Linked DNA regions of Homo sapiens: all the other regions are linked to region 1. The links come from fine-mapping of genetic effects on gene expression. A gene starts in region 1. Each other region holds a variant in brackets. All regions are shown on one strand. Distances are from middle to middle.

Region 1 (8,187 bases):
GTGGGCACCTGTAGTTCCAGCTACTCGAGAGGCTGAGGCAGGAGAATGGCGTGAACCTGGAAGGCGGAGCTTGCAGTGAGCCGAGAACGCGCCACTGCACTCCAGCCTGGGCGACAGAGCAAGACTCTATCTCAAAAAAAAAATTAAAAACTGGGTCAATTTTGCATTCAGTTAAGTCTTCAAATATTGCCAAATAGAAAATTTTAAAAGGCACCTTACTTCATTGTTTACTTTGTCTGCATCTCTCTGTGGAGTACAATCTTCAAGTTTACAGCAACTCTTAGGAAATCCTTTTTCTGAGTAATAATTAGTATCTGTCCAATCTCTATAATCGGTGACACCACAACAATGCAACTGAAAAACCCAACAAAAGCATTTACAGTTTATATTACAACTTTGTAGTCAAACATTTAACCTAATATCCTCTATTGCAATTTGTGCTCAAAACATTTACTAATCTCAATGATCTCTCTCCTCAATTGATTCAAGAGATGAGCACTGGGTCCCTGATTAGCACCATGCATGACAGTTTTGTATTGGCCTTACTTTCCTGCTATAGTTGGTACTAACTGTACCTGGACTATGATGTAAGTGGGGAAGGAAGAGAACAGGTGCACATGTGAGGAAAATGAAACACGTCACACTTCTTTCCCCTACAGGTGGATAACATCTAGTAGCCAGACTCTGCTCTTTTCTCTGAGGCAACAGGGAATGTGTTCCCCTCTAGGTGGTGGTTACCACTTACCGTATTTTGGATCTTGTCTACTGCATGGCTTCTATAATCTCCTGTAGAGTTATACTGCTTCAAAGCCTTCTCATAATTATTCTTAAAGCTGTTCTTAATCTATAGCAAAGAAACACAATGTCAGTAAGAAAATCCTCTAGAAAGTTTTTGGTTTCAGGTCAAATAAGTTCTCGAATCTGACCAATGGTCATATCTTTGACAGCAGCAACATGTATAGTAATTAACTTCCATGGTACAGTCCTGTCCTCTAAGGGGTATAGGTTAGCTGAGGGGACTACTAAGCAAAACATTAAAATATATGATGAGAACCACTACAAGTTCAAAGTGCTGTGGGAATATGTATTTATCTGAGTGGCAATGCAGTATTGCTGTATTCTGCACCCTGCTAATTTTTCTCCACTTTAAACTGAGTTCAAATTCGATGCCTATGGAATTTGTAAGCTACAAAACCTTACTTTGGGAGGCTGTGCTACCACTTTATGAGAACTCTCATTAATGAGCCTTTGCTACTCACCGAATGTTATTTGAACAACCCCAAGTTTACCTGTTTTCTAATTCAGTATTAAGCTTTTTTTTTTTGAGATGGAGTCTCGCTCTGCTGCCCAGGCTGCAGTGCAGTGGCGCGATCTCGGCTCACTGCAAGCTCCATCTCCCGGGTTCATGCCATTCTCCTGCCTCAGCCTCCCGAGCAGCTGGGACTACAGGCACCTACCACCACGCCCGGCTAATTTTTTGTTTTTTTTTGTATTTTTAGTAGAGACAGTTTCACCGTGTTAGCCAGGGTGGTCTCGATCCCCTGACCTCGTGATCCACCTGCCTCGGCCTCCCAAAGTGCTGGGATTACAGGCGTGAGCCAACGCGCCCGGCCCAATATTAAACTTCTGATGATTTGCATTAAGTATATCCAATCTTTTCAAAATGCAAGGCATAAGAAGGTTATCAATTTTGTGCTTTGAATATTTTCCTATCAGCAAAGTTATAAATTGTACTATCTCCGTTTTAATAGGTATTTATACACAGAAAAACGACAGGGAATATAAGTAAGTAATTTTCTTCTGGTGACTATCAGTCTTTACAATTTTCTAAATTTTCTTTTAAATTAGAAGTGGACCAGAATTTTTACAAGAAGGCCATTATTGTCAGCTACAGGTTTAAATACAGAGGTCTGACTCTTCTACTTTAATAAATCCATTTTTATCTCTCAGAGGATAAATGTAACATGCTAAGCTTCCCTAATTCAGGCTTACCTCATGTCTGAAAACAAATCCTACGATGGCAGCGACCAGTTCGACCAAAAAAACGAGAGTCAGAAACATTGCATACTGCAGGATAAGAAAGAAAGTCCAAGTCAGCATAAATAAGATATAGCACAACTGCAAAGGGAGTCAAAGAAAAAATAATGGTCGTCTTCTCAATTAGTTCATCATGTTTTCATTGAAAAGGGCAGGGAAAATAACAACATGTCTATTTTGAAAGTGGAAACTGGCAGCTGAACTGTTACTTGATAAGTTTCCATAAGGAACAGGAAAAATTGTAAAGGGCCATGGCCAGTTCCAACAAAGGAATTCTATAACATACAAAACTTTTCTAAAACCAAGAATCAATTCTAATGAAAACAAGGACTCACCAGTTTTAGCATCCATGCAGAAGCTCGGCAGGTAGCAAAACAACCAAAGGTGCCCAAAAGAATAATGACGGTACCAGTAGCAATGAGCACGAAGGGGACATTGGTGGCCTTCTCATTTAAAAGAGAAAAGTAATTCTCCAGGCTCACCTTGCCCCAAATGCCAACTGCAAGAAGGATAACGCCAGTGATCTATGTGGGAATTCAGAGAATACAAACAGTTACGCACTGTGTACAGCAGCATCTTCAAATCACAACGCATGAGGTATTTAAGGCACAATAGGTGTAATATGCTGGGATACGGCAGACAAGGGGGAAGAGTAGAAGGGGTTAGGGGGGGATCTGCACACAAGAGCAGGCTGTGGACCAGGTATCTTATCAAAATTCTTAAAATTCATCTTTTTGTGTGTAAACACAAGCCCATGGCATATTTGCCCTAGGGATCAAAACTTCCTTAACTATCTTACTCCAACCTTAGGAAGAAAACCTTGAAGGGGAAAAAAAAAACGTGATTTTATGAGTTCCAGAAACTTCCCCCGTCCTCTCCAGGTAGGGATGGGCACAGGGTACAAAGGACTGGTACACAAAAGCAAGCCCAAGGATAGACTGGCGGGAGTGGAGGCATACCATACTTACCTGCGAAACACTCCTCTCTTACGAAGCAGTGAAAAGAAAGACACTATTATGCAAGTGAGCCCTCAAAGGGGCCGGGCAAGCCTTGCTTGCCTTTGCAAAGGTCCAGGGTCACCGTCTGCGTGCTCTGGGGGCTTAAGGCCCCACCTCGCCTCCCGTATCGAACTCGAACGCTGGTACGTCTGGGTCCCAGCTCAGCCTCTCGGCTGCCTTCGTCCCGCACTCCGACCCCAGCGCCGGCGAGATGCCTGAGCTCTTTGTTCGGGGCCCAGTCACTGGTCGCCGGCGTCGGGGTCCCAGGCGCGATGGCCGCCCAAACCCCACACCGTTCCCGACCTGAGCTCCCGCCGCTCAGGGTCACACCCCCCACAACTAAAAGCCCGGGATCCCCTGCCGGCCCCAGGCGCCTTCGTCTCTCACCCAGAAAATAAAAGTGTAGATTAGCAGAACGCTCTTGAAACAAGTAATGACTGGTTTAGTCTGCAGTCTCCGAGACGGGGACGCCATGACTAGCCCGAGACCCTGCACCACCGCACCGGGCGATTGGAACACAGAGAGCGAGACGCGGAGTCCCCGAGTCTCCCCGGAAACTGCCGAAAACTTACGAGCGTCCACAACTGAGAAGGGCCGGAAACACTGTACAATTTTGTAGAGGGTAAAGTATGGGAGGCTGTCCGGAAAGTGGCAACAATTTCAGAGCGCCCCCTGCCGAAGGTTACCGAAAACTATATACAAAGGTTCTAGTGTCGGAAATTTCATAGGTCTTCAAGTGGAGCTTTCTTCATTGTTTTTTTTCTATCCTAAGGAATCTTTCCCGCCCCCCACCCCTCCCCTCTCCTTATAACTTCACCATATTGTTTCTATCACCAGCAGAGCCCGCAGCGCTCTGAGATTGGGCCTCCCTGGCCCCTGGTGCCCTAGAGAGAAGGAAAAGAATGAAGAGGTTAAAAGCGACCTAAGAAAATACATGGGAAAATACCCACAAGAAATATATTTGCAAAAAGAAAGCGGATTGCAAAGCAATACATACAGTCACGTGTGCTTAGACAAAAACTGAAAGGAACAGTGAAATTTACCTCTGGTGGAATTAGGCTGATTTTTTTCTCACTTGTGTGCTTTTCAATTTGTGAACATTGTTTTATGGGTTAGGAAGGGGAGATGTGAATGGAGGAAAATAATCACCACTTGTTGAAAGAATTTCTAAGCTAGGTATTAAAGATAATAATGACTTTAGAATTTACCTGCAGGACTTTGCAAAACCCCAGTATTCCTCTCCTTTTTTATCCCCTAAGTAATTGGAAAGTTGAGGGAAAGTATTTTTACATAATAGTGAAATGTAAGTTCAGCTATTCGCTGTAAACTTTTAAAAAGAGAGAGTGCAATGGAAAAATCCCTGGTGAGTGTGACCTCCTCTTAAATGTTAAAACAGAAAGGCACTGTACATTCCAGCCACCTGGTTTTTCCCATCAAAACCCAGCTGATTACAGAGAGATTAAAACCTAATGTTATATATTGTGAATATATTGGTCTATGTTGTTACAACACAGGAGGTGCGTTAAGGTCTGATTTCTCAACTAAAGCGTCAGCTCTTTGAAGGCAGAGACTGAGTGTTAAGTGAGTTTGTGTTATCTCTAGAGGAACGGGGTTAGAAGGCTGTATCAGTTCCCTATGCAATCCAACCCTTCATCATTGACACAAGCTTAATATCACAAGTGGCTATTTACTCTATTGCCATTGCAAAAAGACCTGCATTTGTGGAGGAGAGATGAATACTCAAACTTTTCTGCTTGAAACGTTGCTTTAAACATACACCTCAGGACCAGAACACAGGAAAGTTCCATTGACTTGGTCACACAGAGCTTCCCTGTGCTTCGAATATTGACCTAGGACCAGTTCCTATAACATCTTGCCAGACGTCTGAGGTGCAAGGCAGCAACTGTTGGAAAATTAATTATTGCATTGCCAGGCTTTATACTAAAATTTTTACTAAAATTTGAAAGGCCTAATACACAAATACATGGAGAGAATGGATAAACGATACATCTACATACACCTTCAAACACTTTGAGGTAAAGTCGTTAGGAAATACCAAATATTCAACATGGTGGAGGGGGGTGTCTAAGTATATGCAAAGATTTCTCCCTAGGCTAAATGACCCCAACTGAAGGGTTCTTATACTAAAAACAAGGATCAAGGGAAGTCTTGATAACTTCTTGTCATCTTAAAGAGAAGTTTCTCTGAAACTTAGATATGTACTGAAAGGGATTTACAGTGTGAGCCCAAGAGCAAAGAAATATGTCTGTAGCTGAAGAAAAAACAAAATAGCAAAGCAAAAGCCACATCTTATTTCCAAGAATGTGTTGACTTTCCTCCTCTCCCTTCCTCTACCACTCACAACGCTGCTTTGTTTGAATAACACTCGGTGCCAAATTAAACCAAATGCTGACATGGAAATTCATATTCCTATGGCTACAACACCTTGCACCATTGCCTCCTACTCTGCTACACCCACTTCCATCTCCCCACCCCCACAATGCCACCAAACCGAGAAATTCAATTTAGTTCAAACCTAGGCCTGGGTTTGGGTACAAACCCAGACCAAAGGGGCATCTAATCCCGTTTAAGGCAATTTAAGAAGTATTTCCCTAGGCCACTAGATAAATGTATTCTTTAAAGTATTAATAATGACTGTGATAATAAGTATTGACTGTATACCAACCACTATTGCTAAGAGCTTGATACACATTACCTCGTATGCACACATCACAAGAACCCTATTATGAGGTTGACACACCTAGCACCTTCATTTTACAGATGAAGAAACAGGTTGAAAGAGACCAAGTAAGCTGCCTAGGACTAAACCTGGGCAACTTCTGTGTCTTTCATCAGAAATGGGGCCCACTTTGTGATGAAACATAGCTGCTGTTGTACGTACAGCTGCCTCTGCGCAGAGTAACCTGAGTAAAGACTGCTGTTGCACAGACATTTAACCTAAAACAAGGACTCCTCGGAGCCTCTGAAGCTTAAGAACCTCAATGATTGCCCCAATTCTGCCTTGCACTTGGGGTTTTTTGGTTGAGTTTGGCTTTTGCCTTCACTCCAATAGCCCAGCCACCTAGGAAGTAACCCTACCTGCCCCAGAGTGGTAAGGCAGAGAGTTCAGTACTTTTTCTTGTTCAACCTCTTAATTTCTCCCTCTTTCTGAGCACAGAAACACAATTTGATGCCAACAATGTAGGAAAAAAGGAAAATACTTTAAGTATTGTTACTGCTTGTTTTACATGGAACATTTAGTAGCCCCCCTTCCCAATTAATTTCCTGTAACCTTCAAGATTAGGTGTAAATGTTTTTCATTGCTAGACATCAGGCAAGGGAAATGACATAAACAAGGGCTCACTGTTAAGTCAGACCTCCCTTGTGCCACCTCCAGCCTCCCTCCATCCCTACCAAGCCCCTCATCCCAATACAATCTCAACTGATTTCCTACTGCTTTTCCAATGTGAATTTTCTGCTCTGTACCAGGTCAGTATGATCAACCCCCCAATTAAACAAGTCCTATTCCCTAGTCCCTGCCCACCCTCAACTTCACTCATACTTTCTGCTTCTACTGAATATCCAGTTCAATCCCAACTCAGTAAAAAGTCCCTCCTTCCTCACCTCTTTCTCTAACACCATAACTGTCTTAACTACACACTCACTCCCATTAACCCAGCCCTTTAGTCAATTACTGCAATATCTGCTTTGCATTTCTACTTACCTATTCTACATCCTACCGTCTAGATGTTCAGAAACTACTGAAGAGCTAGTGTGGCAGGGCCCCTATGCCCCCTTTTATACTCTCCTCAGTACCCTAGGACATAATGCCCAATTGATGAGTTCATTTTCTGCTCGGCCAATCCCTGTTGAGCTGATTGCTCATTGAGGTCATAACTGGTCTCTGGGAGCAACCACATAGTAATTACTCAGGATTGATTGTTGAAATTAAATAAAAAATTAAATGTCTAAGCCATCCCAGTATCACACTATAATAAAACAGAAAAAATTAAATTGAGTACCTAGATAATGTCTTGGGACATTCCTCTCTCTCTCAGGAACCACTAAAATAATAACAACAACAATAATAATAATAATAAACTGTATCGCTGAGTGTACATCTTATCTCTTATTCACATAATAACTTTACCATTTTCATTTTCTAATCCCTTTTCTAGCATCCCTTCAATTACCTTTGGCTAAGTGCCTATCATAGAATTTAAAGGCGCATCCTACTTATTTTCTTAATATCTCATATTTTATGTTACAGCCATCAGATACCTCATTATTTAAACAGTTAATTCATATGTACAGTTTTAAAAATCCATTTCGTTAATGGAATATCTCTTTATTTCTATTGTCTCTTGTGCATTCCCATTCTCCTTCTCTGAAATTCTATTCTTTGTCTATTTTTATGCCCTTGTTTTCCATCCACTCCTTTCAGATGCTCTGTGAAACCTTTCCTCCCTTTCCATCCCTGATCTTGCCTTCTTCAAAAAAGCTCATAATATACAGTTTGGGACACATAGACATGATAAATACTTTTTTTTTTTTTGAGACGGAGTCTCGCTCTGTCGCCCAGGCTGGAGTGCAGTGGTGCCATCTCGGCTCACTGCAAGCTCCACCTCCCGGGTTCATGCCATTCTCTGGTCTCAGCTTCCCGAGTAGCTGGGACTACAGGTGCCCGATACCACGCCCGGCTAATTTTTTGTATTTTTAGTAGAGACGGGGTTTCACCGTGTTAGACAGGATGGTCTCGATCTCCTGACCTTGTGATTCGCCTGCCTCGGCCTCCCAAAGTGCTGGGATTACAGGCGTGAGCCTCCGCGCCCAGCCATAAATACTTTTAAATGGTATTAAAATTGACAATTCTATGTCCATTTTCTAAGAAAGTTGTTTCTAGTCTAGCCTTGTTGAGCTTTCCTGAGATCTCAACTAGGGAAGTCAGTTTCCATATCTAATATTTCGTAAAACAATACCTTATTTACTGCTGAGGGGCTTCATATTAAAAGTCTTAAAGTTGAAAATGGTACTGAACTTTAAGAAACTTAAGAAATTGAGTATGCCTGGATGCTGTCAGTCTCCTTATCCACCTTTGTCTTATCCTCCCAACCAAACCATAAAGAGAGGTGTTTTATTTTACTTTGTAGCC
Region 2 (8,187 bases), 21 kb after region 1:
GCTGCATAAGGGCCTTTGGTTTGGAGGTGTAGTGTCTCATAGCTCTTTTTAGGACTTAGTCTCAGGGCATAAAATGAATTGAGTGAAGTTAGCAATGATGAGGGGGAGGGAGTGGCCAGGAAAAGTACAACCTGAGGCCCCAGCCTCCCAGGTAAAGTCTTTGTGACCTTATAATCAATAGGTCTGCAACTGTAGTGCTAAATGACTTCCCGTAATTTGAAGATGGTGTCTCCAGATGGCAGTAGTGTGTCTCAGTCACATGCTCAAAACGAATGCTGGGAACCACAGCATGTTGCTGCTTTAGGAAAGATGGGACACTGGCTCAGACCCAGACACTGACTTAGGGAAAATCATTCACAGGGTTGAATATTTTACACATGAAATTTCATTTGGTTCTCACAACAGCCCTATGGAACGGTTTATTATCCCCCATTTTACCAACCAGGAAACTAAGCTCAGGGAAGTTTTAGATTCAGAGAGTCACAGAGAATTTAAACTCAGATCTGTCTGACTCTAAAGCCATGCTTAATTCATCTCTTTCATCAAAAATTAACTCATTGTTCTAAAAAAGAAGACCAGAAAAAAAAGAACAACCAAATCATTATTTTAGAGCAAATTGGCATGTCATTTGCTATCATTTTCACTCATCTTGCACTTTCTATCATTCCCTTATCCCAACTCCTAGCTTGGAGTCAGCTGGGGCTGCTGCTTTCCTTGCAGCTTGCCTCATCCCTGAGCAAGCTAGTCACACTGCCTGGGTTATCTGAAGATAATAGAAGACAACAGAGAAGGCCCTTTCAAAACTCTCGTCAGCACTTTATTTTCTGCATACACCTTAAAAAGAGATAGACAGATGAATAGCTACAGAAAGCGGAGACAATGGGCCTGAGTTCAAACCTCCGCTTCTCCCCCTTCCAGCTCTTGGACTCTGGACAAACACCTATTATGTGCCAGTCACTGTGCTATGTATTTTATAAATGTTATTTCATTTAAATAAATTGCACACTTGCTATGTAGTGATATGGAAAGATCTCTAAATACACTGTTAAGTTTACCAAACAAGCAATGGAGGGAAGAGTGGGCATAATATGCTACTCTATGTATTAAAAAGGAAGGAAAAATAAGAAGCTATACCAACATTTGCTTTATAGGCACAAAGAAACTATTAAAAGTAGTTATTTGGGAGGGGACTAAGTCGGGGTGGGCATGGGAGCAGGGGTTGGGGGAAGACATTTTACTTTGTAACTTTTTATACTTTTGAGGTTTTGAGTCATGCGGATATATTATCTATTCAACAAGGTCAGTGTTTACTTCAAAATAGTAGCCTATTTTATATCTGCAGTGGCAGACACTGCAATTACATAGGACATGGAGTTTGGAGCAGACAAAGCCTGGGTTCAAATTTCAGCTCTACCCCTTACTTGCTTAGGGATCCTGGGCAATTTACTTCCTCATCTGCAAAAGAGGGATAAACACCTGCATACCTTACAGGGCTGTTGGGAGAACTGTATAAGATGATATATGTGAAAAGGAAAACATGTAGCATGGTGCCTAGAACACAGGAGATACACAATAAAGACTTACACACTTCCTACCAGACAATTTTGCTATACAGTATTTTTGGGGTTTTTTTAGGTGGGGTGGGGGAGTTTTTTTTTTTTTTTTTTTTTTTTTAAGACAAAGTTTCGCTCTTGTTGCCCAGGCTGGAGTGCAACGGCACAATCTTGGCTCACTTCAACCTCTGCCTCCCAGGTTCAAGCAATTCTCCTGCCTCCGCCTCCCAAGTAGCTGGGATTACAGGCGCACACTACGGCACCCGGCTAATTTTGTATTTTTAGTAGACCCGGTTTTACCATGTTGGACAGGGTGGTCTCAAACTCCTGACCTCAGGTGATCCGCCTGCCTCGGCCTCCCAAAGTGCTGGGATTACAGGGGTGAGCCACCACGCCCAGCCAGCCATACAGTATTTAACCACATTCTTTTTTCTTTTATTGGTACATAATACTTTACATATTTATGGGGCACATGTTGAGTGTCACACGCATAGACTGTGGACTAATCAAGTCAGGGTATTTGCGGTATCCATCACCTTCAGTATTTATTATTTTTATGTGTTGGTATCAAGTCCTCTCTTCTACTTACTTTGAAATATACAAAACATTGTTGCTAAGTATAGTCACCCTATTCTGCTATCAAACATTAGAATTTATTTCCTCTAACTATAGATTTGTATCCATAACAAAACTCTCTTCATCCCCTCTGCCACCCACTTACCCCTCCCAGTCTCTCGTATCTATCATTCTATTCTCTATGTCCATGAGATTAACTTTTTAGCACCCACAATTAAATGAGAACATGCAGTATTTGTCTTTTTGTGCCTGGCTTATTTTGCTTAACATAATGTCTTCCAGTTCCATCCATGTTGCTGCAAATGACAGGATTTCATTCTTTATTATGGCCAAATACTATTCTATTATGTATATGTACCACATTTTATTTATCCATTAGTCCACTGATGGATACTTAGGTTGATTCCATATCTTTGCTATTGTGAATAGTGCTGTGATAAACACACGAATGCAGATCCCTTTGATATCTTGATTTCTTTTCCTTTAAATAGGTACCCAGTAGTGGGACTGCTGAATCATACGGTAGTGCTAGTTCCCTCCCTCCCTTCCTTCCTTCCTTTCCTTCCTTCTCCTTCCTTCTCCTTCCTTTCTTCCTTCCTTCCTTCCTTCGAGATGGAGCCTCATTCTTGTTGCACAGGCTGGAGTGCAGTGGCGCCATCTCGGCTCACTGCAACCTCTGCCTCCTGGGTTCAAGCGATTCTCCTGCCTCAGCCTCCCCAGTAGCTGGGATTACAGGCACCCGCCACCACGCCCAGCTAATTTTTGTATTTTTAGTAGAGACGGGGTTTCACCATGTTGGCCAGGCTGGTCTCGAACTCCTGACCTCAGGTGATTCACCTGTCTTGACCTTCCAAAGTGCTGGGATTACAGGTGTGAGCCACCACGCCTGGCTAGTTTTCATTTTTTAAGAAATTTCCATACTGTTTTCCATAGTGGTTATATTAATTTACATTCTCATCAACAATGTATGGTTCCCTTTTCTCTGCATCCTGGCCGGCATCTGTTATTTATGTCTTTTTTTTTTTTTTTTTTTGAGACAGAGTCTCACTCTGTCCCCCAGGATGGAGTGCAATGGCATGATCTCGGCTCACTGCAACCTCTACCTCCTGGGTTCAAGCAATCCTTCTGCCTCAGCTTCCCAAGTTGCTGGGATTACAGGTGCCCACCACCATGCCCAGCTAATTTTTGGATTTTTAGTAGAGACGGGATTTCATCATGTTCGCCAGGCTGGTCTCAAACTCCTGACCTCAAATGATCCGCCTGCGGAGGCCTCCCAAAGTCCTGGGATTACAGGCATGAGCCACTGTGCCTGGCCTTTTTAATAATAGCCATTTTAACTGGGGTGAGATGATATCTCATTGTGTGGTTTTGATTTGCATTTCCCTGATGATTAGTGATGTTGAGCATATTTTCACATATCTGTTGGCCATTTGTGTGTCCTCTTTTGAGAAATATCTGTTCATGTCCTTTGCCCAATATTTTGTTTTTGTTTTTTGTTTTTGTTTTGGAGACGGAGTCTCCTGACCTCGTAATCCGCCCACCTTGGCCTCCCAAAGTGCTGGGATTACAGGCGTGAGCCACTGCGCCCAGCCCCTTTGCCCAATATTTTAATGGAATTATTTGTTTTTCTACTGTTGAGTTGTTCGAGTTCCTTGTATATACTGGACATTATTAGTCCCCTGATGGATAAGTAGTTTGCAAATATTTTCTCCCATTCAAGAGGCTGTCTCTTCACTCAGTTGTTTGTTGTTGTTTTGCTGTGCAGGAGCTTTTTAGTTTAATATAGTCTTCCTGGTCTATTGTTGTTTTTGTTTCCTGGCTTTTGAGGTCTTAACCATAAAATTGTTGCCTAGACCAATATCCTGAGGAGTTTTCCCTATGTTTTCTTCTAGTAATTTTATACTTCTGGGTCTTACATTTAAGTTTTTACTCCACCTTGAGTAAATTTTTGGATATGAGAGATGGGTGTCCAATTTCATTATTCTGTATAAGGTTATCTAGTTTTCTCAGCACCATTTATTGAAGAGAGTGTCCTTTCCCCAGTGTATGTTCTTGATGGCCTTGTCAAAGATCAGTTGGCTATAAATATGTGAATTTATTTCTGGGTTTGCTATTCTGTTCCATTGATCTATATATCTATTTTTATACCAATACTGTGTTGTTTTGGTTACTATAGCCTTACAATATATTTTGAAGTCAGGTAATGTGATGCCTCTAGCTTTGTTCTTTTTGCTTGAGATTGCTTTGGCTATTCTGGCTCTTTTTTAGTTCCACATTAATTTTAGGATTGCTTTTTATATTTCTGTGAAAAATGATGTTGGTATTTTGATAGAAAGTGCATTGAATCTGTAGATTGCTTTGAGCAATATGGTCATTTTAACAATATTAATTCTTCTGATCCATGAACACGGGATATCTATTTTTGTGTCCTCTTTAATTTCTTTCATCGATGTTTTATAGTTTTCAGTGTAAAGGTTTTCACTTCTTTGGTTAAGTTTATTTCTAGATTTCTTTGTAGCTATTGTAAATGGAATTGCCTTCTTGATTTCTTTTAACCACATCCTCGTTTCAGTTTCCCATGGGCATTCTTTGGGTACAGTTGCTCAGCCACTTATGAATTTTTAACCATATTGTCACCTCTCCTGTATTACATCTCATCCACATCAATGACATGAAAAGCATTGTCACATGCCTCACTTACTTCCACATAGTGTATCCACCATTTCCCCTGCTCTACCAGTCTGGTGACCCTACCCAAACAGGAAATTAGGTCAGTCTGGAATTACTTGTTCCAGAGGGTTCCTGGAGATCACTATTTCTCTGGGTAACTGCCATACGCCTTATGTTTAAATATTCTAGAACACTATGCTATCAGTGCTGTCAGTGTCACTAGGCTATAGTTCCCAGAGACTTCTTCCTTATTTGAAAACAGATTGTGTTTGCTCTTCTCCAGCCTTTCAAC[G/A]TTTTTGTCTTTATGCCAGGATTTTTTCTGGGTCGGAAAATTTGAACTTATTTACAATAGCTGGGGCCTCTCCTACTGTCTCAGCATTTAGACCGACCTTTATATTTCCCTTTACCATTCTTACTTATTCTACCGATTCCAATCTGATGTGTATTTTCCTTGACAGACTATGGGAGCGATATAGAATGGGAGTGATTGTTGAGGTCCCAGCCTGCCAAATAAGGTCTTTGTGATATGTGTTGTGGCCTTATAATCAACAGCTCTGCAACTGTAGTGCTTAAAAGACTTTCTGTAATTTGGAGATGGTGTCTCCAGATGGCAGCCATGTGTCACTGCCACAGGCTCAAAAGTAATGCTGGAAGCCCCAAGAGTAGTGTTTACTGAAGAAAAGATTTCTCACTGTCATCTGTCTTCATTCTCCAGTTGCACTCAGAAAGAGGCTCTAGCCTTTCTTTGTTCCTTTGGTGTCTCATCTACTTCTTTTTTTTTTTTTTCAAAGCTTTTTTTTTTTCCCCCTTAGGATGTGGGAACTGAGTCAACTCACATGGGGCTTTAGCCTTCCCAACCCTAGGCCAACAGACCCGTGCCATGCTGTGTGTGTGCATCCTTGGGCAGGCGGCCCTCTGCTTGTTTATATGTGCCCCTTTAAACTCTGAACCCACTAAAGAGTCATTTATTTTGTATAGCCTGTGAGGCATCTTTATGATGCCTTTATGATTTAACAGCCTTATAACCTTTTGTGCTCAGTACTGAACTGGGATTGGACTTTAATTCCTAAGAAGCCTTCTTCCTTCTTTGATGTCACATTCCCTTCCTCTCTCTAGTTTACATTTTTGTATTATCCTTTAAATTTTTATTTTAAACATACATACAGAAAAACTCACTCTTTTTGGTGTACAGTTCTGTGAGTTTTGACAACTGCATAGGGTCACATAACTCCCACCACAGTATGAGACAGTTCCATCACTTCAAAATCTTGCCCAGTGCTTCCCCTTTGATGTTATTCCCTACCTCTACCCCTAATCTCTGGCAAACACTGATCTGTACTCTGTCACTGTATTTTTGCCTATGTCCCTATATTTTTGTTATATAAATGGAACTCTACAGTATGTAGTTTTTCAAGTGTGGCTTCTTTCACGTCCCAAAATAAATTTGAGATTGATTGATGTTGTTGCATGTATCAGCACTTCATTCTTTTGTATGAATACACCACAGTTAGTTTAGCCATTCACCCATAGAAAGACATTTGAGGCTGGGCGCGGTGGCTCATGCCTGTGATCCCAGCACTTTAGGAGGCCAAGGCGAGCAGATTAAGAAGTCAAGAGATCGAGACCATTCTAGCCAACAAGGTGAAACCCCGTCTCTACTAAAAATACAAAAATTAAATACAAAAATTAGCTGGGCGTGGTGGCAGGCGCCTGTAGTCCCAGCTACTCGGGAGGCTGAGGCAGGAGAATCAAGCTTGAACCCAGGAGGTGGAGGTTGCCGTGAGCCGAGATTGCACCACTGCACTCCAGCCTGGTGACAGAGGGAGACTCCGTCTCAAAAAAAAAAAAAGAAAAGAGAAGAAAGAAAGACATTTGAGATTTGAGTTGTTTCCAGCTTTTGGCAATTATGAATAAAGCTACTTTTAACTCTCGTGTACAGGATTTTGTGTGGACACAGGTTTTTATTTCACTGGCATAAATACCTTTAAGTGGGATTGCAGAGTCGTATGGTAAGTGTACCTTTCTTTATAAGAAGGTAGGTGTTACCTTTATAAGAAATAGCCAAAATATTTTCCAAAGTGGCTGTATTTTTGCATTTCCACCAGCCATATATGAGAATTCCAGTTTCTCTCCATCTTCACAAACACTTGGTATTACCAGTTTTTTTTAAGGATACCCTCCCTGATGGATATATAAGTAGTATCTCATTATGATTTTAACTTGCATTTCCCAAATGATTAATGATGCTGAACATCTTTTCATGTGCTTATTTGCCATCGGTGTAGCCTATTCAGTGCCATGTGTGCTTATATCTTTTGTCCATGTTCTAACTGGATTGTTTGCTTTTTCAATGTTTTGAGAGTTCTTTCTATATTTTAAATACTAGTCCCTTTTATGGCTTTGTCTTTTCACAGAGCAATTTTTAATTTTGACAAGGTCCAATTTGTTAATTCATTAATTTATTTATTAAAATTTAATTCTTCTGGCCGGGCGCAGTGGCTCACGCCTGTAATCGCAGCACTTTGGAAGGCCGAGGCAGGAGGATCACAAGGTCAGGAGATCGAGACCATCCTGGCTAACACAGTGAAATCTCGTCTCTACTAAAATACAAAAACTTAGCCAGGCATGATGGCAGGCGCCTGTAGTCCCAGCTACTCAGGAGGCTGAGGCAGGAGAATGGCGTGAACGTGGGAGGCGGAGCTTGCAGTGAGCTGAGATTACGCCACTGCACTCCAGCCTGGGCGAGAGTGAGACTCCGTCTCAAAAAAACAAATTTTAATTTTTCTTTTATTAATTCTGCTGTTGGTGTCATACCTCAGACCACTTTGCTTAGCCCTAAATCCCAGTGACCTTCTCCTGTTTTTTCAAGTCCATGATCCCATTTGAGTTAATTTTTGTATAAGGTGTGAGACTTAGGTCGAGGTGGGGTTTTTTTTTTTTTTTTTTTTTTTTTTGCATATGGAAGTACAAGTGCTCCAGCACCGTTTGTTTGAAGGCTATCTTTCTTCCACTTAATTGTTTTTGCACTTTTGTCAAAAATCATTTCAACACACCTGTGTGGGTTTACTTCTGGGCTCTCTATTTTTTTCCATTGACCTATTTGTCTTTTCACCAACACCACACTGTCTTGATTACTATACTTCTAGCTTGCCTTTCTTCTATTGCTACAGTCCCCCGATGGTGTTATACATTAAATATCCAGGATGGAGAAGCCACATGCTACTCACCGAAGGGAGGAAATTATCACAGCAGCCTGGGCACGCGTTGTGAGCTCTCCTGTGACCGGGGCTTTCGATTGATTGGAAGGAGGTCGGTGCAATGCCTGCCAAGCCGTCGTTGGTCTGGAACTGCCTACTGCAGGCGTAAGTTGTGTGTGTGCATATGCTGA
Region 3 (8,187 bases), 110 kb after region 1:
TTACTACTATCCTAAGGTACTAATCTAAGATATACAAACACAAGCACACACATGCACACATGCACACACACACACACACACATTTAGTCCTCACAAAAGTCCTATGATGCAGATACTATTATTACACCCATTTTACAGATAAGGAAACTAAGTCACAGAGAGGTCAAATGGTAAACTCAGTATTTGAAGCCAGACAGTGTGGCTTCAGATTCCATAGTCTTAACTAGTACTCTGTGTTGTCTCTCAGCAATAAATAAATAAATATATCATATTCATGTGTGTGTGTATATAATACATATACACACAAGATATATATTTGTAAGTATATGGGGTTATGTGTATATTGCTACATATATTTGGAAAAGGATGTCAAATGGGACTTTTTCTGTTGTTTCCCAAAGTTTTGACTGAGGCTTCAAAGTTAAAGACATACATACTAGGGGTAGTCATACATTCTAAAGAGGGATGTTAGACAGATTCCCACAGGACTTGCTAAGAGGTAACCAAACTGGTATTTCAATTACTAATCCCCACCACTCAACTCCAGAATTATTATAAGATAATTCTAGAGATTAATTGAAGCAACAAAGAGGATTTTTTGAAGGGAACTCATTGGAGTAGAAAGCACTATGGTTCCCCTGCTCGAGCGAAACAAAAAAGATCTTAAGTAAACCTTTTGAAGAGAGACTGACATCTCACTCCCAGGCTGGAGGCTTGCTGCACTACAGAAACTTTAGCCTTTGTTGCTACTGAAACAGGATGAGTTCATGAGAGAACCTCGCATATGTCCTCTAGTGCTATGAAAAGATAGAAACTTATACTTGACTTTTACCTAAAATCTGAAGGCAGAAGCCTGGTTTAAATTGCTCATAATGGCAGAGCAAAGAAAGAGATCTAGACTTCCAAGGGACCATGTTTGCTGTGGACCAGGTAGTTTCTTTTGAGCATAGCTGGCAACTCCGCATAAAAATGAGGATCCCATGAATAGAAAGTTGTGGGGGCAACAGCCAAGGGGGAAGAGGGTCAGATGGTACATTGTTCCTATCAGGGAATAGTGTAGGGAAGAGATCCCTGCTAGCAGGAAGAGGAGTTAGAAGGTCCCTGAATAAACCAAGAAGGAACACTACAAGAAAAGGCAGTATTTGGGCATCTATGTCACAGAGGATATTCATAGCCAGATTACACCAGCACCAGTCAATTCAGCTTCTCACTGTCCCTTTAAGATTCCCCTCTCCATACCCACCCCACCCCTAAGCCCTGGAGGAGACAGAAGCAGTAGAACAAGTAGGGGAGGAGGTAGAGCAAGAAGAATAAAAGAACAGACCAAGTCACTTTTCTCACTAGAGATCTGTGGGATTGCCAGTCAAGCTGCACTGGAGGTTGGGGACTGGAGGAGAAGTTTTAAACTGGATGTGAGATGGAAGTTTTGATTTGACTGAACTTTTAAGTGCCTACAAATTAAACTATTGTAAATATCTGAGAGTAACCAAAAAGCGAGTGGGTTAAATATATAACATAATATGGGATAGTGAAACGTTACCCAAAAAATCAAAGGAATAGAGTAATATTTTATATATGTTAGTCAAGCAAAGCCTCTCAAAAGAGGTGACACTAACAAAGTACAGAAGCAAGCCATGGGAATGTCTTTGGTCCTCATCTCTCTTCAGTATATTCATTCTCCTTGGATGATCTTAGAATAGAAGCTTGTAAGATAGACAGGGAGCAGATCATGAAAGTCTTTCTAAGTCATGTATGTATAAGACTCAATTTTGAGAACCACCGAGAGCCACTGAGTTTCTCCGTGATCCGATTTGGATTTGGGGAAGACTACTTTGGCAGTGGTATGGAAAATAGATTGGAAGTAGGGTAACTATCCCAATGACTTCAATTTCCCCCTGTTGACTCTCAATCTTGTATCTCTACCCTACATTTTCTCCTGATTTTCAGACTCGTATGTTTAATGGCTACCAGCCATCCCCACCTTAATGATCACAACCACCTCAAATTCAACTTTTCCAAACTTAAACTTCATCTTCCTTACAAATCTTTTCTGTCCCCAGTGTTTTCTATCCCAGTGAATAGCACTACCATCTACTTAGTAGCACAAAACAGAAACCGTCCCCACACCTAACTAGTCCCTAGATCCTGTTGTTCTCATCACCTAAGTAGATTTTAAATTCCTTCCTACCGTCACTGCCTTAACTCAGGCCATAATCATCTCTCTCCTGAACTACACAAACAGCCTCCTGACTTGTTACCCTAATTCCAGTCTATTTTCCACACCACTGCCAAAGTAGTCTTCCCCAAATCCAAATAAATAGGATCATGGAGAAACTCAATGGCTCTCGGTGGTTCTCAAAACTGAGTCTTATACATGGCTTTGAAAGACTTTCATGATCTGCTCCCTGTCTGCCTTACAAGCTTCTATTTTACCATTCTTTGTCTTGACCATTCTGTTTCTAGGCAACCTAAATGATTTTTATTTTCCTCCAAACACCAAGTTCTCTCATGGCTCTTCCATCCTCCTTTTATCTTCTCCAGGCTAAGCCTTACTTATCCTTTGACTCAGATATGATCTCTTCTGGAAAGCCTCTCCTGTACCTTGCTAGTGTGGGTGTACCTCCCCTATGCTCCCATTGTTCCATAACACTCTTTATAAAAATTTCTGACATAGTACTCACTACACAGTATTTGCATTGTCTTTTCAAGTGGTTGCCTTTACCACTAAAACATGAGCTCTTCGAGATCAAGATCTATGTCTTATTAACCTCTGTATTCATAAGGCCTGCATATGAAATAGGTTCCCTTTTAAAATCCAAACTGTTCTTCTGCCCAGACTCTTCTTTCCTTCACTCCCCCTTGCACTTTGAATTCCTAGTCACTCCTACAGATTCAATTTATCTACCCCATAGGGTGTTTGTATGCCAAACAACTAGCGGATTTATTTCTCCTAGGGTTTATTCTCAACCAAAAACAATATTGCTTCCCCCTGCCCAGGGGACATTTTTGGTTGTCACAACCAAAAAGAGAAGTGCTACTGGCATCTAGTGGGTGGAGGCCCAGGATGCTATTAAACATCTTATAATGCACAGGACAGCTTCCCACAACAAAGAAGTGTCCAGCCCCAAGCTCAGTAGTTCTGAGGCTAAGAAACCTTGCCCCTTAGCTGTGGTGCACTTTTCAGCCTTGTTTCTCTTGTGCTGAATTACAGCGTTTTCTGTGAAATTCAGTCCTGCATTCTGGAGTCCAAGATAATGACAAGAGGAAAAAGGAGTCATAAAGATA[A/C]AATTCTTGTGGGCTGGGGTTTCATTTGGTCTTGCTGATGAGCAAAACACATTTGCACACATGCTAAAACCCATATTTGGGAAAACATTCACTTACAGAGAGATGGGCCATTTGTAAGATGGGGCTTTAAATTCAGAGAACACTTTAAAGCCACTTTTTTGACTCAAGCTAAGCACATTAGACAAACTCCTATACAAGTGGAAAAAGAGAGGAAAATAATTATTTGTTGAGCTATTTCTATAATGTATCATCTCTTTTAATCATCACATTAGCACTATAAATTAGGCACTATTATTATCTCCACTTTACAGATGAGAAAACTGTGGCTCAGATAAGTTAGGTAACACATTAATGTTAAATGAAGAAACAGGGGCTTAAATCCAATGTCTTCCTATTATACCACACAAGGATGATTCAGTGTTCAAGGCACAAAAAAATTAAAATGTTTTCTAATGCTTGCAACATTTTGTTTGTGCTGTCAAACTTAAAAAAAAAAAAGCAGTTTGGCATTCACTCCAAGTCCAGTTAACCCTCTGTTTGAGTCTCCTCACTTGAGTAGGACGCATCTGCCTTTGGTATATTTCCATCTAGGGGCACTGTAGTTCAATAGGATCTTGCCTGGGCTGGGAATCAGAAGATGTGAACTTGTTCAATTTTTTTTTTTAAATGACTGTGGCAGTTATCTCACTATTCCTTGGTTTCTCATTTGCAAAATTATATTTCATTATGATAATAATATACTATGATAAATATGATATATCCAACATATAGGCCTTTTTTTTTTTGAGATGGAGTCTCACTCTGTCACCCAAGCTAGAGTGCAGTGGCGCGATCTCGGCTCACTGAAAACTCCTCCTCCCGGGTTCAAGCAATTCACCTGCCTCAGCCTCCCGAATAGCTGAGATTACAGGCGCTAGCCACCAAGCCCGGCTAATTTTTGTATTTTTCATAGAGATGGGGTTTCACCATGTTGGCCAGGCTGGTCTCGAATTCCTGACCTCGTGATCCACCTGCCTCGGCCTCCCAAAGTGCTGGGATTACAGGCGTGAACCACCGCGCCCAGCCACATATAGGCCTTTCTAATATGCAACTTCAGGGTCCCTTTTCAGGCCAAGACTCCCTAGCCAAAGGTCCCTAGGATTCAGTCTTCTTTTCTCTTTCCGAAAGTACTGCCACCCCCTCTATCCTTTTGGGCTGCTTCTCAATAATCCTTTTCCCCCATTCTGTGAAGTGGGACATGGTCTCAATGCTCCAGAAGACAATCACAGGAATTCTTCTACTGTAACCAGTTACAGCACTACTAAACTATTTTTCCCTTACAAGGAGTAACTATTGCATTAGCCAGATTCAGAGAAAAACATGGACTGTGCAACTTTTCTGTTGTTATTAGGAATACCATCAAACACTGCTCTAGCACCATTCATAATGCTTCACAGGAATGGTGGTCATTGTAATAGGAGTGTACATATCTTATAATGCCTCAATTACACAATTGTCAACAGCTGCCTCAATGCAAAGGGCAGTTTGGGCTGAGGCAGCGTATAAGCAGAACATTGCACGCTATAATTTGCATTAATAGCCTTTCCACCCACTATGCTTGTATCTACTCTAATATCACAAGCTTCATCTTCAAGGATCTTGAAGTCACATCTCCACTACCTTGCTGTTGCCATTCCATTTTTCATAATGCAGCTCAAAATTTCTCTCTTCAGACTTACAAGGAGGAGCTATCTGCAAATCGCTTCATCTGGGTTTAATCCCTGCTTCCTTTTCCTAAAATTTTCTTTATTATTCTTCTTGCACTCTTACTTGACAATCTTAAAATTGTTCTTACTGTGTATCCAAAGGTATGTAAGAATGAGGCTTGACACAAATAAACTGCAGTAAGATGTGAAGGCAGTTACTAGGGAGCTTCTGCAAATTTGTCGAGTCCTGGCACTCATTTTAAGCAAACAAACAAGTTTATTGAGAGTTCACCCTGCCCAGATACCTTTCTATTTGAAGCTCAGTAAATGTACAACTACCTCACCTCAGCATGAACTGAAAAGGTACAACAAGATTTCCAAAAGAAAAGTATTTGACAAGCAGAGTTAAAGTGAAAATTAGTATTTTCTTTAAAAAAATAAGAAGATTGGGTTCCTCTGTGCTCCAAGTCCTATGATTGTTCTTTGACAAATTTTTCACATTGTTATCTCTTTTGTTAGATCTTCAAAAAAGCAGACTCCCAAACAGGATGTTTTAAAAGTGAAAACCATGGGCTTGAAAAATAATAGAAAGAACGAGCAAGAAGAATAGTGTCCAAATTCCATCCTTCTGTTGCTACTGCTAACTGTCCAGAAAGGGGAAATGGTAGACAGTTGATGTTTCAGTTGCTGTGAAGTAGTGAAGTAAATAATAATACGGGAGGCCTCTAGGAAGAAAGACTATGTGTTGACACCAAATCAGCCAGCATAGAGTAGCCTCCACTCTGTATGTCTCTGCCTGTACAAATTCCTTCTCTCTGGAGGCTATTTTCCCAGCCTAATTTATAAACATCATGACAAAAGAGTTGGTTATTTGGGGTCAGCATAACACCGGGCAGTGGAAAAGCAAATACAGAGAACAAGATGTTCTACGCGTACATAATAGTGTCATTTCTTTTGAGGAGACACAGGAATCAAATAACAGGGATTTTTGGCTCTTCGGATTCTGAAGGAAAACAAAATGACCTTGGCATCTAGCAAATAAGCTCGAATTCAGAGGATTGAAGTTATTACCCAAAATAAGATTAGATTCTGCCCTGTGGGGACACATTTGTATTTCACAGTCAATTTGGGATTAACCTTTTCAGGGCTGGTGGAGAATTAATTAGTTCTTTACTTCTCTCTCTGGACTGCCTCAGGCTCTAGAGGTTTCCATGTATTCTAAAGGAGATTTGTGCAGGGCAGCCAGCTGTGCAACTGTGACTTATTTATTCATGCTTCTGGCATAGATTCCTCTGAGTGTGAGAACTGTAGAAGGCGCCCCTCCCAAAGAGCACACAAGCCCAACCCAGTGTAGCAGGACTTTGTGTGGGTGAGGTCCATCCAGTGCATCAATTATGACAGTCCAGAAAGGGACTGATCTGTGAAACCTCCCCAGGTCTGTTTCCTCCTCCACGGTGTTTCTCTTTTCTTCAATTGCTCCTGCTTTGTCCACACTACCACAGATGGGGCAGTTATGGTAATTCCAAAAGCCCAAGAATTCAAGCTGGCACTGCCTCAGCAACTGTGTGTTTTTAAAAGAAGCATACAAGTTCAATATGCATAGTTTAAAAAAGATGTCCGTCAAAATGTTAACAGTGATTATTTCTGTGGAGTGGGATTACTGAAAATTTTTGTTTTCCTCTTTGTGGTTTCCTAAATTTTCTGTTTTGATCATGTATTATTTGTGTAGGTTTTTCAATTTTCTTCTTTTAAAAAGGTAAGCTTCGCAGATGAATCATTTGTATTTCCCTAGTGCTCTATCTCCAAGCACTGTAGAACAGCCCTGAAAGTGTACAGAAAAACACCCAAGTGGGGAGTTTCACTTCCAGCATTATTTTTCTTTAAAATCATGGAGATAAGGCAAAGGATGAAGATATGAACACATGTTATCAGTGCGGCCTCAGCAGAAAAATAATTCACTCCAAATGGCTCAAATGAAGAGAATTTGTGAAAAACCATTTATAGGAAGTGGTCAGGGTTATAGACCTTGTTACAGAAGAAACAAGGGATAGTGAGGTTTGAGTGGGAAACTGTTACCACCCCTACAGCCAAGGGATAAGCGAAGAAACAGTTACCAGAGGCCAGCAAGTGCTGAGTCTATGGAGGAGGAGTTGGCCAGTGGGTGCTCTAGTTGTTTAAGAATGCAGCTACTGCCAGGGATGCAGTGCACAGCAGAGAGTGTAGGGAAGAAATATCCCTGACGCCTCGCTCCTTCACTCTCTGATCTCCTATTATTTTTAACCCTTTACCAAACCCAATGCAAGCCAAGGCAAGGGAACCAAGAATATGCAGTCCATAGGAGTAAACCTCCTAAGACATAAGGAGGGACTAGGAAGAGTAAAAACTGGATGAAGGTAGGAGATAAAGACCATCTAGCAGTCTACTCCTTTTATTTGAAAAACCACTTTATTGAGGAATAATTGACATAAAAAATTATACATATTTAATGTCTACAACTTGAAGAGTTTGGAGAAAAGTATACACACCTGAAAAAATAACCACAATCTATGTCATAAACACATCCATCATCTCCAAAAGTTCCCTCCTGCTCTCTTCATTTATTATTTTTTATAAGAACACAACATAAAATCTACTCTCTTAGCAAATTTTTAAGTATATAATACAGTATTGTTAACTGTAGGCACCATGCTGTACAGGAAATGTCTCGGACTTATTCATCTTGCGTAACTAAAGCCTTCCCATTTCCTAATACCTTCCCATTTCCTCCTCTCCCTAGCCCCCAACAACCACTATTCTACTCTCTGCCTCTATGAGTTTGACATTTTAGATTCCACATTAGTGGTATCATGTGGTATTTGTCTTTCTGTGTCTAGACTATTTTACTTAGTATAATGTCCTCCAGGTTCATCCATGTGTTACAAGTGGTAGAATCCCACTCTTTTTAAAGGCTGAATAATATTCCATTTTATGTATATGCAGTAGTCCCCCCTTATCTGTGGTTTTACTTTCCACAGTTTCAGTTATCCCTGGTCAACTGTGGTCCTAGAATATTAAATGGAAAATTTCAGAAATAAACAATTCATAAGTTTCATGTTTTGTGTCATTCATAGTAGTATGATAAGATCTCACGCTGTCCCACTCAGTCCCACCCTGGATATGAATCATCTCTTTGTCCAGTGTATCCACGCTGTATATGCTCCCTGCCCATGAGTCACTT

Alleles and levels. Positions count from the first base shown, and alleles are read on the strand shown. Sizes are in standard deviations (SD) of each study's normalised expression. Not every link is listed here.
As copies of A replace G in region 2, the expression in transverse colon of the gene that starts at base 3,621 in region 1 goes down (small effect, 0.21 SD a copy in GTEx).

What was found. PIP is the estimated chance that this variant, and not a neighbour inherited with it, causes the effect.
Region 2: its variant is fine-mapped to the expression of TSPAN6 in transverse colon (GTEx, PIP above 0.99).
Region 3: its variant is fine-mapped to the expression of TSPAN6 in whole blood (TOPMed, PIP above 0.99).

The regions. Positions count from the first base shown.
Region 1 is chrX:100,633,186-100,641,372 of GRCh38, forward strand. TSPAN6 (tetraspanin 6) reads right to left here and starts at 3,621. Exons shown (of 8, transcript NM_003270.4): 1 at 3,423-3,621; 2 at 2,373-2,561; 3 at 1,993-2,067; 4 at 746-844; 5 at 220-354. The coding sequence starts at 3,509. RefSeq lists enhancers at 2,585-3,200, 3,201-3,816.
Region 2 is chrX:100,654,207-100,662,393 of GRCh38, forward strand. SRPX2 (sushi repeat containing protein X-linked 2) reads left to right here. Exons shown (of 11, transcript NM_014467.3): 4 at 7,970-8,161. Among named protein-coding and RNA genes, the nearest start is that of SRPX2, 14 kb to the left of the region's middle. The variant G/A (reference allele first, on the strand shown) is at 5,092.
Region 3 is chrX:100,740,165-100,748,351 of GRCh38, forward strand. No RefSeq gene overlaps it. Among named protein-coding and RNA genes, the nearest start is that of SYTL4, 12 kb to the left of the region's middle. The variant A/C (reference allele first, on the strand shown) is at 3,286.